Regions from separate parts of the Homo sapiens genome. Here region 2 is linked to region 1. A link means that fine-mapping ties the variant in region 1 to the expression of a gene that starts in the linked region. Tissue or cell type: sigmoid colon. Region 1 holds a variant in brackets; the other region holds the start of a gene. All regions are shown on one strand. Distances are between the middles of the regions.

Evidence for each region. PIP is the estimated chance that this variant, and not a neighbour inherited with it, causes the effect.
Region 2: it holds the start of ANO6, and the variant in region 1 is fine-mapped to the expression of ANO6 in sigmoid colon (GTEx, PIP 0.92).

The regions. Positions count from the first base shown.
Region 1 is chr12:45,402,388-45,407,576 of GRCh38, forward strand. ANO6 (anoctamin 6) reads left to right here. Exons shown (of 20, transcript NM_001025356.3): 14 at 685-854; 15 at 1,052-1,149. All of the region lies in intron 5 of LOC105369743 (a long non-coding RNA gene), which reads right to left. Among named protein-coding and RNA genes, the nearest start is that of ANO6, 190 kb to the left of the region's middle. The variant C/T (reference allele first, on the strand shown) is at 2,562.
Region 2 is chr12:45,213,463-45,218,651 of GRCh38, forward strand. It overlaps ANO6 (anoctamin 6), which reads left to right and starts at 2,633. Exons shown (of 20, transcript NM_001025356.3): 1 at 2,633-2,929. The coding sequence starts at 2,860. It also overlaps the pseudogene PLEKHA8P1. RefSeq lists enhancers at 2,399-2,498, 3,509-3,638 and a silencer at 2,959-3,268.

The sequences.
Region 1 (5,189 bases):
AAGCTATCACACTGCTACGTGTCTTCCCTGTGCTGTGCTGTTCATATTAATATAATTCTCATCAGCCCTTGATTTTTTAATGTGTTTCTTCTCTCTGGCTTGTATCCCAGGCAGCTGTTTAGTGGCCAAGTTAAGTGCTTCCCACACTGCATACGTCTGAGTCGTTCCCTGAATGGCCTGCTCGGTGATCATCTAAAATGATCAAACTGATGCAAACTCCACACTAGGAGGATGACCTATTTTGTTTTTCCCAAATGCCTCTAGCAAGTTGTACCTTGGTTTGCTTGTTTTCTTCAATAGACCTACCTTATCGCAATTCAGGAAAACAAGAGAATATCATTTAGCAGGCAGTTCAAAAATAATTTTCTGTCAATTATACCCATGGCAGTTCTTATTTGATAACACTGGACTTGTAAATTTTAAGGAACAGTTGATTTTTTTGTGGGGCAGGGGGGAACATGTGGGCTATTGTATTCCTACTGTGAGGGAGAACTCATAACAATGTGCAAACTTGGAATTAACACAGTGGCTATATTAAGGAATTCAAAACAGCTTAAATGGAAACAGTGTGAATTGTATTTTTTTAACGTGTTTAACGTGTTAACTCATGTATCAGTATTTTTTATTAGAGTCTCAAAGCTGTTCACAATTTTAAAATCTTATTTCTCTTTCTTTTAACTACAGAACTCCCAAGGACCCAGACTGATTATGAGAACAGCCTCACCATGAAGATGTTCTTATTCCAGTTTGTCAACTACTACTCTTCATGCTTCTACATAGCATTCTTTAAGGGCAAATTTGTAGGCTATCCAGGAGACCCAGTTTATTGGTTGGGAAAATACAGAAATGAAGAGGTATGAATATATAATTGTATTATCTTGCCAGTTTAAGCTGAGTTTTCTCTCAGTTGCCCAAATGAATAGTTTTTTATTGTAAATTCCTTAGATTTATTTTTTAGCCTAAACAGAACAAATGTCAGAAAAATAGAATGCCTATATTTCAAGTTAGATCCATTGAATATTTAAATGGTATTTTCTTTTTAACCTTCTAGTGTGACCCAGGTGGCTGTCTTCTTGAACTGACAACTCAGCTGACAATAATCATGGGAGGAAAAGCAATCTGGAATAACATACAAGAAGTATTATTGCCGTGAGTGTTAAATTGTATAGCCATGGGTAAAAGGACAAGGGATAGAACAGCCCATCCACACAAATCATTTGCCTACATAGCCACATAGCCACATAGCTGCATGTCCACCTCTAAATGGATCAGAATCTGTTGTCATTAAAGGTCTCCAGACAACATAGTCCAACCAACAATGCAAATGTATCCAGGATCTAATAATTGTATTTTAAAACCTTCATTATATTTAATGTAAATCCCCATCTGCTAGAGTTTATACCTACTGGGCTATTGTTGGTGACTGACTAATCACAACCCTTTGAGCGACAGCACTGGTTAGAGCTGTGAACTGTGTATTTCCACAATTTCTTATATCCTCATATCCTTCTCCTCTCTTTCCTATATATTATGCATTTAAAAGTCAGTATGAATTCCAGTCACTATATTAAGTGCTATATATATATATACATCATTTAATCTACCAAACTATCCTTATTTTTATCTCCTTTTTACTAATGAAGATCTGTGGTTTAAAGAGGTTAAATGATTTACCCAGTTTCACATTAGCATTAAGAGACTACTGTAGGATTCAAATCCAGGATCCCATGAGTACAAACTTTTAAGAATAGAGGTTCTTTCATGATCCTAAGGCACTAGGATATATAATGTTTTAAGAAATAATTGTCTAAAATAATAATCACAAAGGCTTTGACTTACTGTTGTTTTCCTAAAAAATGAGAACAACAGAATAGTTGTACTTCAAATGTTAACTAAGATTTCATTGCCCTTTACAATTTTCACTTAGGCCCCCTCCACTATCAAAGTGTAAAGTCCAACACCATCTGCAATTTCTGCAAATTTCAGGGAGCTTTTTGTTTGGGTTTTCTATTGCTGCTATAACAAATTACCCCAAGATTAATGGGATAAAAATAACATGTAATATTTTATGGTCCCGGGGGTCAGAAGTCTCACTGGACTAAAATCAAGGTGTTAGTGGGGCTGTGTTCATTTCCAAGGGCTCTGGGGTGAATCTCTTTGCCTTTCCTAGCTTCTGGAGGCCACCATCTATGCTCCCTGCCTTGTAACCTCTTCTCCATCTTAAAGCCAGCAAAGTTTCGTGTTTGTGACTATCTTCTGTAGTCACCTCTCCCGCCTTCTGTCTTCTTCCCCCTGTCCTCCTCCTCTCATCTCCCCCACCACCTCTTCCCTTGTTTAGAAATAAAAAACCTCTACCTTTATAAAAAGTCTTTTATCCCACTATATAGCTGGGAATTTTTTAAAATTTATCACCCTTCTTTACAGGCTCTCGCCTCCTGCCATGTTGCCCTCTTGCCTCCATCACATACAACTTCTCTCTCCTTTCTTCTCCTACTCCTGGCTTTTTTCTCCCCAGTCACCAAGTTTCTGTTCATTCTCTTTATTGAGCAGTTAACTCACTC[C/T]GGGTTTCAGTGCCTCCTTCCAGATTTCTTTAACAGGTCTTATTCTCCATCTTCAATGGAAACTGTCAGGGTCTTTCTCTAAACAAAGATCTCTCTCCTTCCTCTTCCCCCACCCAGAAAGGGATTCTGGCTTTAGCTGTGAAATTCTTTTTTTTTTTTTATCCTACTCCGGAGAAAACAACCCTCACTTTCATTGAGCTCATATTCAGATTTTTCCAGATAAGTAAAAGTAGGTCATGCATAAATAGTACTGTGTTTCTAGATGAAAACAAATATATAAAATTGAGGAAAGTCTTAATCCATTCTGAGATTAAAAAGGGTTTTCTGAAAAAAGTAGGTTAATTATTTAACACTATGTTTCGGTAACATTGGTTTTTAGCAGCTATTTCCTAAACTGGAATTGAGAAATTCATATGAAATGAAATTTGTTCACATGAAATATTTTAAAGGATGAATTATACTATCCGTGGTTTATACTTTCACTTCAAGTAAGCTCATTGTTGAAAATTACAGTGATATGAACTTTGCCTTCAAATTTCTCCCCCTATGTTTTCTTGTTTGAAAACTGAGAATGCTGAGTGTTAGCCAAATTAGAGAGTGACTGGTGCTGCTTCTCTTTGTGTAGGTGCCAGTTTTCTTAACTTTTTTATACAAAGTCCTAATTTATCAAAGATATATCAGCCAGGTGCTGTGGTTCACACTGGTAATCCCAGCACTTTGGGAGGCCAAGGTGGTCAGATCACCTGAGGTCGGGAGTTCGAGACCAGCCTGACCAACATGGAGAAACCCCATCTCTACTGAAAATACAAAATTAGCCAGACATTTGGTGCATGCCTGTAATCCCAGCTACTCAGGAGGCTGAGGCAGGAGAATTGCTTGAACCTGGAGGCGGAGGTTGCAGTGAGCCGAGATCGCACCATTGCACTCCAGCCTAGGCAACAAGAGCGAAACTCCATCTCGAAGAAAAAAAAAAGATATATCAGTTATCCTTTCTATCCAAAACTATACCCACCCCCCAAAAATAGATAGAGAAAAGCCTTATAAGTCAGCAGTTGTTTTCACATCGTGTAAGTGTGTCAAGAGAAACATGGAGAAATGTTTCACCACACATGTACCCTCCTCTTCCTTCCTTCCTCTCCCGCCTTTGGGCCCATACCCCTTGACTAGGATTCTTGCAACAAGGAAAGGAGCATATCTGGCTCAGGGATCCAGGTTCCTTTTGGGGCCTCCCCAGTACCTGGCATATGACAGGGACTCAGTATGAAGCAGCTGAGTGAATGAATAAGTGCCTTGTATGCTTCAGATACATCACATCAGTAAATTACAGAGTTGTCAGTGAGACCCGGAGAGCAAGCTCAGAGCCCTTTGGCCTTCCCAGCTCCACCTTAGTGTTTTGATATTTAAGGTATTCCTGGGGATTTTATTCTGTTCTTAATAAAAGGCTAGTATAATTCCTGTGTTAACTCACTCTGGAGAAATTTTTATAACAAAATGTCAGAGATAATAGAATTAAGGATCCAAAATGTCTGTAGTATCAATTGTTTGGTATTTAGTAGATAGCTATAATTTTCCTTTATATACATTTATACATGTATATTGTAACATAAACGCCTCTTCTTATATAAATAAGTATACTTATTTATATAATAAGAAAAAAGAACTGTTTTAGGAGAAAATGTCCCTTCTCAGGATAGGATTTGGAGAGAAGATGAGCTATAGGCAATCAGAGTCCTAAATATAGGTGTCCCTCACTATCCACACTTACTCTCTAGGTTCAGAAACAGTAAACTGACACATAAAATAGATTCAGATAGTGAAGGATGCTTGTATTTCAAAATTAGCAAGTGGGAATACTGTAGAACGTCCTAAACAGAAATGATGATCATCTCCATTATGTGGATTAAATGTGATAATGGAGTTGAAGAGGAAGTGAGATGTAAAGTGCTTCTCACCATGTTTTGTACAAAATAAGGACCTAGTAAAGCATAACTTATGATGTGGCTATGACAATACACATGGTAAATTCCTATGGAAATTATTTTGTAACCCCTGCTTCTAGCCTTGGCCAGGGAAAACGTATCTGGTGTGTATATTTTTCTAAAAGTTCTGTGGGTGATTCTCATGTGAAGTCAAGATTGAGCTCCCTGCACTAGAAACACAGACCAATAGAAAACCCAAACATGAGTGGTTCAACTCAGGAAAACCAAACAAGAGGCTCAGCATCTGTAACTCAGAAATGAAAGCTAGTAAGAAAGACTTCTAAGATGACCTGATATGAGACGGAAGCGCCAGCTGACACAAGTAGTTGCCAGGACAGAAGTTTCATCCTGAATCTGAGCTTTGATGTGATTTAGAGCCCAGACAGAAAAAGACCTGCTTCTCTGAGGGCATGGAAAGGATTCAGCAAGAGGCGGAGGCTAGAAGTTTGGGAGGCAAAGCAAAGTATAAACAAATAGAAACCACACCCAGTGACCTTAGAGTTCGGTGTCATGAAGGGTGATGGACATGTGTGGTCCTTGGTGCTACCTGAGTCACCCCCCCCCCCCCCCCCGGAATGACTGCAAAACTGCAGATTCTGGAGCTTATCTCAGACCTTTTAGTTGGGAGCACAGGAAGCTGCACTACTCA
Region 2 (5,189 bases), 190 kb before region 1:
GTGTGGTTCTTACATAGGCCTATTATCCTATTTCTGAGGCATATATTGATTGCTCAACTGAAAAAAAATGCAGAAGAGAAGTGGTAGGAAATAAAATGGATTAGAGGAAAGAATGGAATTTACTAATAATAGAGTTCCCTTCTAGCAACAGTTACCTTTACATATAAGGCCAACAATGTTTCGCTGCAACATTTATCAAAGAAGAAAAATGTAAACTCTTAAAAATCTGTGAAGAATTCTAAATGACTAATTAAAACTTGTTGCAAAGTCAACTTCGATAATTTTTTAACTACAAAGTAACTTTGACCGAAGTCTTAGTCCATAAAAATGAGAACAAGGCCGGGCGCGGTGGCTCACGCCTGTAATCCCAGCACTTTGGGAGGCAGAGGCGGGCGGATCACGAGGTCGGGAGATCTAGACCATCCTGGCTAACACGGTGAAACCCCGTCCCTACTAAAAATACAAAAAATTAGCTGGGCGTGGTGGTGGGCGCCTGTAGTCCCAGCTACTCCGGAGGCTGAGGCAGGAGAATGGCGTGACCCTGGGAGGTGGAGCTTGCAGTGAGCCGAGATCTAGCCACTGCACTACAGCCTGGGTGACAGAGCGCGACTCTGTCTTAAAAAAAAAAAGAGAGAACATTTGGTTAAAGAACTATGGCAGGGAGTTGATGAGACTTTGAATTTTGAATTGGTGGGGGAAAAAGTGATCTGAAAAAAAAATGGATTGGGACATGTCTCTGGAGGTGGTTTATGAAGAGGCTATGAGCACTGATTCTGAAACAAGCTGTTGAGGTTTCAATCCTGGCTCCACTATTTATTCCCTGTGTGATTTTGGACAAGTTGCTCAAGTTGCCTCACACCTGAAGAAAAATGATAACACTTTCTAGGGTTGTTATGAGGGTTGAATGACTGGATGCTTATAAAACATGTAAAACTTTTCCTAGCACATAAAAAGTACTACACAAAAATTTGTTAAAAGAAAATTGTAAAAATTGATCATGTAACCAAAACACTTTTGAAGTTTCTACTTTTAGTGAGTTTCACAAGCTCAGGGGAGAGTGTTCAGTGAAAGGAAACAATCTCTTCTCATCTTTCTTCTCCCATCATTTTTTTCTCCTATCTTCAGAGTACTGTATTGTTGTCTCTTTATACTAAAAACAATTCTGTTTATTCAAAAAAAGTACCTCAAGAAGCAAGTATAGTGTTTCCCAGGTATTTTCTTAAAAGTAATTTCATCATGTCTTTTCATGTATATATTCATGTCTATTTTCCCACTTAAGATTGGTCCCAATGTTTTCTTTCTTTCAGAGAGAACATTAAAAATGTTAGGAAACTGAGGTGCAAGGATTGCTGGAGGCCAGGAGTTCGAAACCAGCCTGGGCAACATAGTGAGACACCCATCTCTACAAAAAAATTTAAGAATAAGCCCCACATGGTGGTGTGCTCCGCTTGTAGTTCTAGTTACTGAACTCCCACCTCGGCAACAGAGCGAGACCGTCTTAAAAAAAGTATGTGGAAGAAAAAACATGCACAGTAGATTTAGTGTTATTGTGATAACCCTAGCACTTCAGTGGAAAAAATATAAACAATTTCAATGAGTAGACAATAACACATATAACCAAGATTTCAAATATACCTTCTAGCCCTTTTGAGAAGTCAAAATTGAACAACCTGAATGTACCAGCTTTTTTGAAAAAAGTTTTGTAGACACGCGATCCCCAAAACCTGCCGTTCAAACAACTCCAAGGGTCTTTAAAGTACTAAATCCCTTTGTATTTGTCCTATCGGTCCCTTTGGTTTCCAGGAAAGCATTAAAAATAAAAATAAAAACTCTCTGCCTTAATTTTATTTCACGACTTTCTTTTCTCTTATTATAGCTTTCCACATTGCTTTAGAAGAGTTTACATCTAACTCTAGTGGTCTTCGGCTTCTTCTCCCTCTTTGACACAGAGGACTAGTTTCAATTGTACAAATAGGCTGGACGCTTCAGCGATTATCTTCCGACCACTCCCTGTGTGCTCGCGCGGGCGGAGTAGGGGGCGCTTCTCCACTCTCCGCGACCTCAATGTATGCGGAAATCCTCCTGCCTTTGTGCACACGTTTATTTAGAAAATTCTCTCCACCCCCACTCCCGTCCGTCCCGCCCCTTCTTCTTTTGCTTATTCTCTGAGTTTTGCCTCTCCTCCCACCCCGACTCCACCGTAATCTTAACCTACCCGTACAGATTCCACTTTCCCACTTCGGAGCTAGAGTAATTTAAGATCCCCCCATTATTAGCTCCACGTCGCCTTTAAAAGCCATTCAAACGAGTTCGCCTTCCAGGGTTCTGCAGTTGTGCTGCAGCAGCATTTCCCTCCTCTCCAGTATCAGACGTTAAAACAAAGCAAGCCACAGTGTGTGTCCACAGACGACCTTGGAACGAAAAGCTGCCCTGTTTGGGATCAATGCTCAGGGAACCCAGTCCACTCCCGCACTCACGTGTTCCCGCCTTGCCCTCCAGCTAGTTCCCCCGCGCGCAGGATCGCACTACTCCCTCTGCAGTCTCGCCTGCCGACTTCCTTCTGCGCGCCTCGTAAAACCGGGGAAGTTCAATCATTCCGCAGCGAGCCGCGGCGGCCGCACTGGGCATGCTCAGTCTCCGGGCTCCGCTCGGCAGGCGAGAGGCGTCCTCCGGCTCTGGGCTCCGGTCGGTGGGTGCCTCGGCTCGGCTTTCCCCGGCGCTGGCTGGGCTCAGCGGCCCCTGAGCCCAAGCGACACACGCCCCGCGGTCCCCGATCCGGCCCCTGGGAGAGCCGCGCCGTTCTGGAACCCGGGAGCCCCCAACTTCGCGCCAAGTTCGGAGCCGCCTTCTGAGGGAGACATGAAAAAGATGAGCAGGAATGTTTTGCTACAAATGGAGGAGGAGGAGGACGACGACGATGGGGATATCGGTGAGCGAGGGGTCCCCGCGTCCCCACCCGAGAGCCCGAGCCGACGCGGGAAGAAGTTCGGGGACTGCGCGGGGGCGCTGTGCTCTCCGCGGGGGAGGTTGGCCGAGACGCTCGGCCGCTCCGGGCAGGGGAGGAAGCCCGCTGTCCCCGGCTGCTTGCAGACTGAGGCCCCGGTGCGGCCCCTGCGGGGCTGAGGCGCGGGGCGCGTGGTGGCCCCGAGGACAGGCTCCTGACGGGCGGGGGATGCTGCCCCTGAAAAGCCTGGCAGCTGCGGGGACGCCTCTGCGTGCGGAAGTCTCCACTCAGAAGCAACTTTGGGGTCACTTCCCCGACTCGCAGAGTGCTAGGGTTGCCCAGGAGCCTCGGCACTGGGGCGAGCCCCCTGGGCGGGGTCCGGGGAGCAGGCCCGCATTTGGAGGACAGGGTGTGACCCATCTGAATCCTCGTTAAAGTAAAAGCCGACCGACGGCTCTGGGAGGTTTGAGGCCTGGCGGGGCGGCCCCGGGAAGTGATTTGTGGCCGCTAGGCGCGCGCTGGAAACCCTTTCCCATCTGCGGAGCCCACCGGAGCTGTGATCGGAGGAGGAATTCCCCCAGGCAGGGAGGACCGCAGGGCCTTTTTCACTCGTCCTGAGGGGCCCTGGGGCTTGGGGAGCAAACCTGGGGTGACCCATTTCTAGTTAGAGTTAAAAATGCATGGAAGTGACAAGACGAACGGAGGGAGAGCTGTTTTAAGAGCAAAAAAAGAAAAAAAGGGCAAACAAAAGGGATGAGAGGAGGTGAGGAAGGGGAAAGGAATGAGAGGACTAGAGAGAAAATCAGGTCCCTAAAGAGAACACTGTCGGGGGATGATGATATAATGTGTCCCTCCAGAAGACTCTAATTAAATTACCAAGCCAGTCTGTTGTGGCGACTCGGCTTAGTCTCCTGGATGCCAAATCAATTTTAAAGCAGAACATCCTGCTGATGTTCTAAAGCCCTGTTGTTATCTAATAACTTTAAAAGTAACTTAATTTTAGGAGTTGGGTGTGGTTTTTATTTCTGTTACATTTTGGGCACGGAATATTTCGATCAAAAAAATTTGGTAACTTCTTGGTTGTCCAGGGACAAATCGAATAGAGGAGATTACACTCCATGATTTAGTTTCACATTTCATTCATTCATTTAAGAACAATTTACTAGTTATTCATCTTTAAGGAGAGAGCAAATAGTAGTAGTTTTTATAGGAGAGAAAACTGAAGCGCACAGGTTGGTCTGCCCAGCTTCTCACACTTTCAAACCCAGGTTTTCTGACTTGTAAAACCAGTGAAGATTAATGCTCTTACCACTGGGTCACTCTGGCTGTTACTACTGTTTAGCAAGATTAAGTAGTACCTGATGATTACATAAAAATATAGGAGTGAAATTTAAAAAGTTACAATAAAATTGACACAGTCTGTTTCCCAGGAAAGTATTATTGTCTTTTATGGTGAGCTGCACTGTTTATAATGAGTATTGTAAGTAAATAAGGGCAGAAGCTCAAATGGAAACTGAAGTAAGCAAGAGGCTCTGAGCTTTGTTTTACTGTGCCAGCAGTAGATCTCAGTTTAGAAAGTAATTTGGTCTAGTCTGTGTTTACCTATTGAGGCATCGTATAAATTCATCTTAAGCGTGTGGCAGTAAGCTCTTTTTATTTTTAATGACATGTCATTCATGCTAGTTTTGTCCAGTCAAACAGTGTAGATAGACTTAAGAAAAAGTTAAATATCTCTACTCCTCCCCACCCTCTAGAAACTACTAATACTAATACTTTAGTGTTAATATTAGTAGGGCATTTCCCACTATTCCTGTGGGGCCCTGGGGTCTCTACTGTAGGGGTCATCTCAACATATTTTACGTCAAGCAGCAGGTACCATTTAAACAGGTCTTGGCAATATTTTTTTCTTCTCAGTGAATGAAAAGATATGCTGATGTTCTAACACCCAGTATCTATGAATGTGATTTCTGTTTCTTTCTTTCTCTTTTTTTTTTTTTTTTTTTTTTGAGATAGGGTCTCGCTCTGTCGTTTAGGCTAGAGTGCAGTGATGTGGTCATGGCTTATTACAGCCTCGACCTACGGGGCTCAAGCGATCCTCCCACTTAAGCCTCCCAAGTAGCTGGGACTTTAGGCACCACCATATCCACCTAGTTGGTTGTTTTTTTGGAAGTACAAATTTAATGTGGGTTGTAGTGATTTTATATCAGAAAATACTTAACTATGCCAATGTTAAGTTTATGCCTTT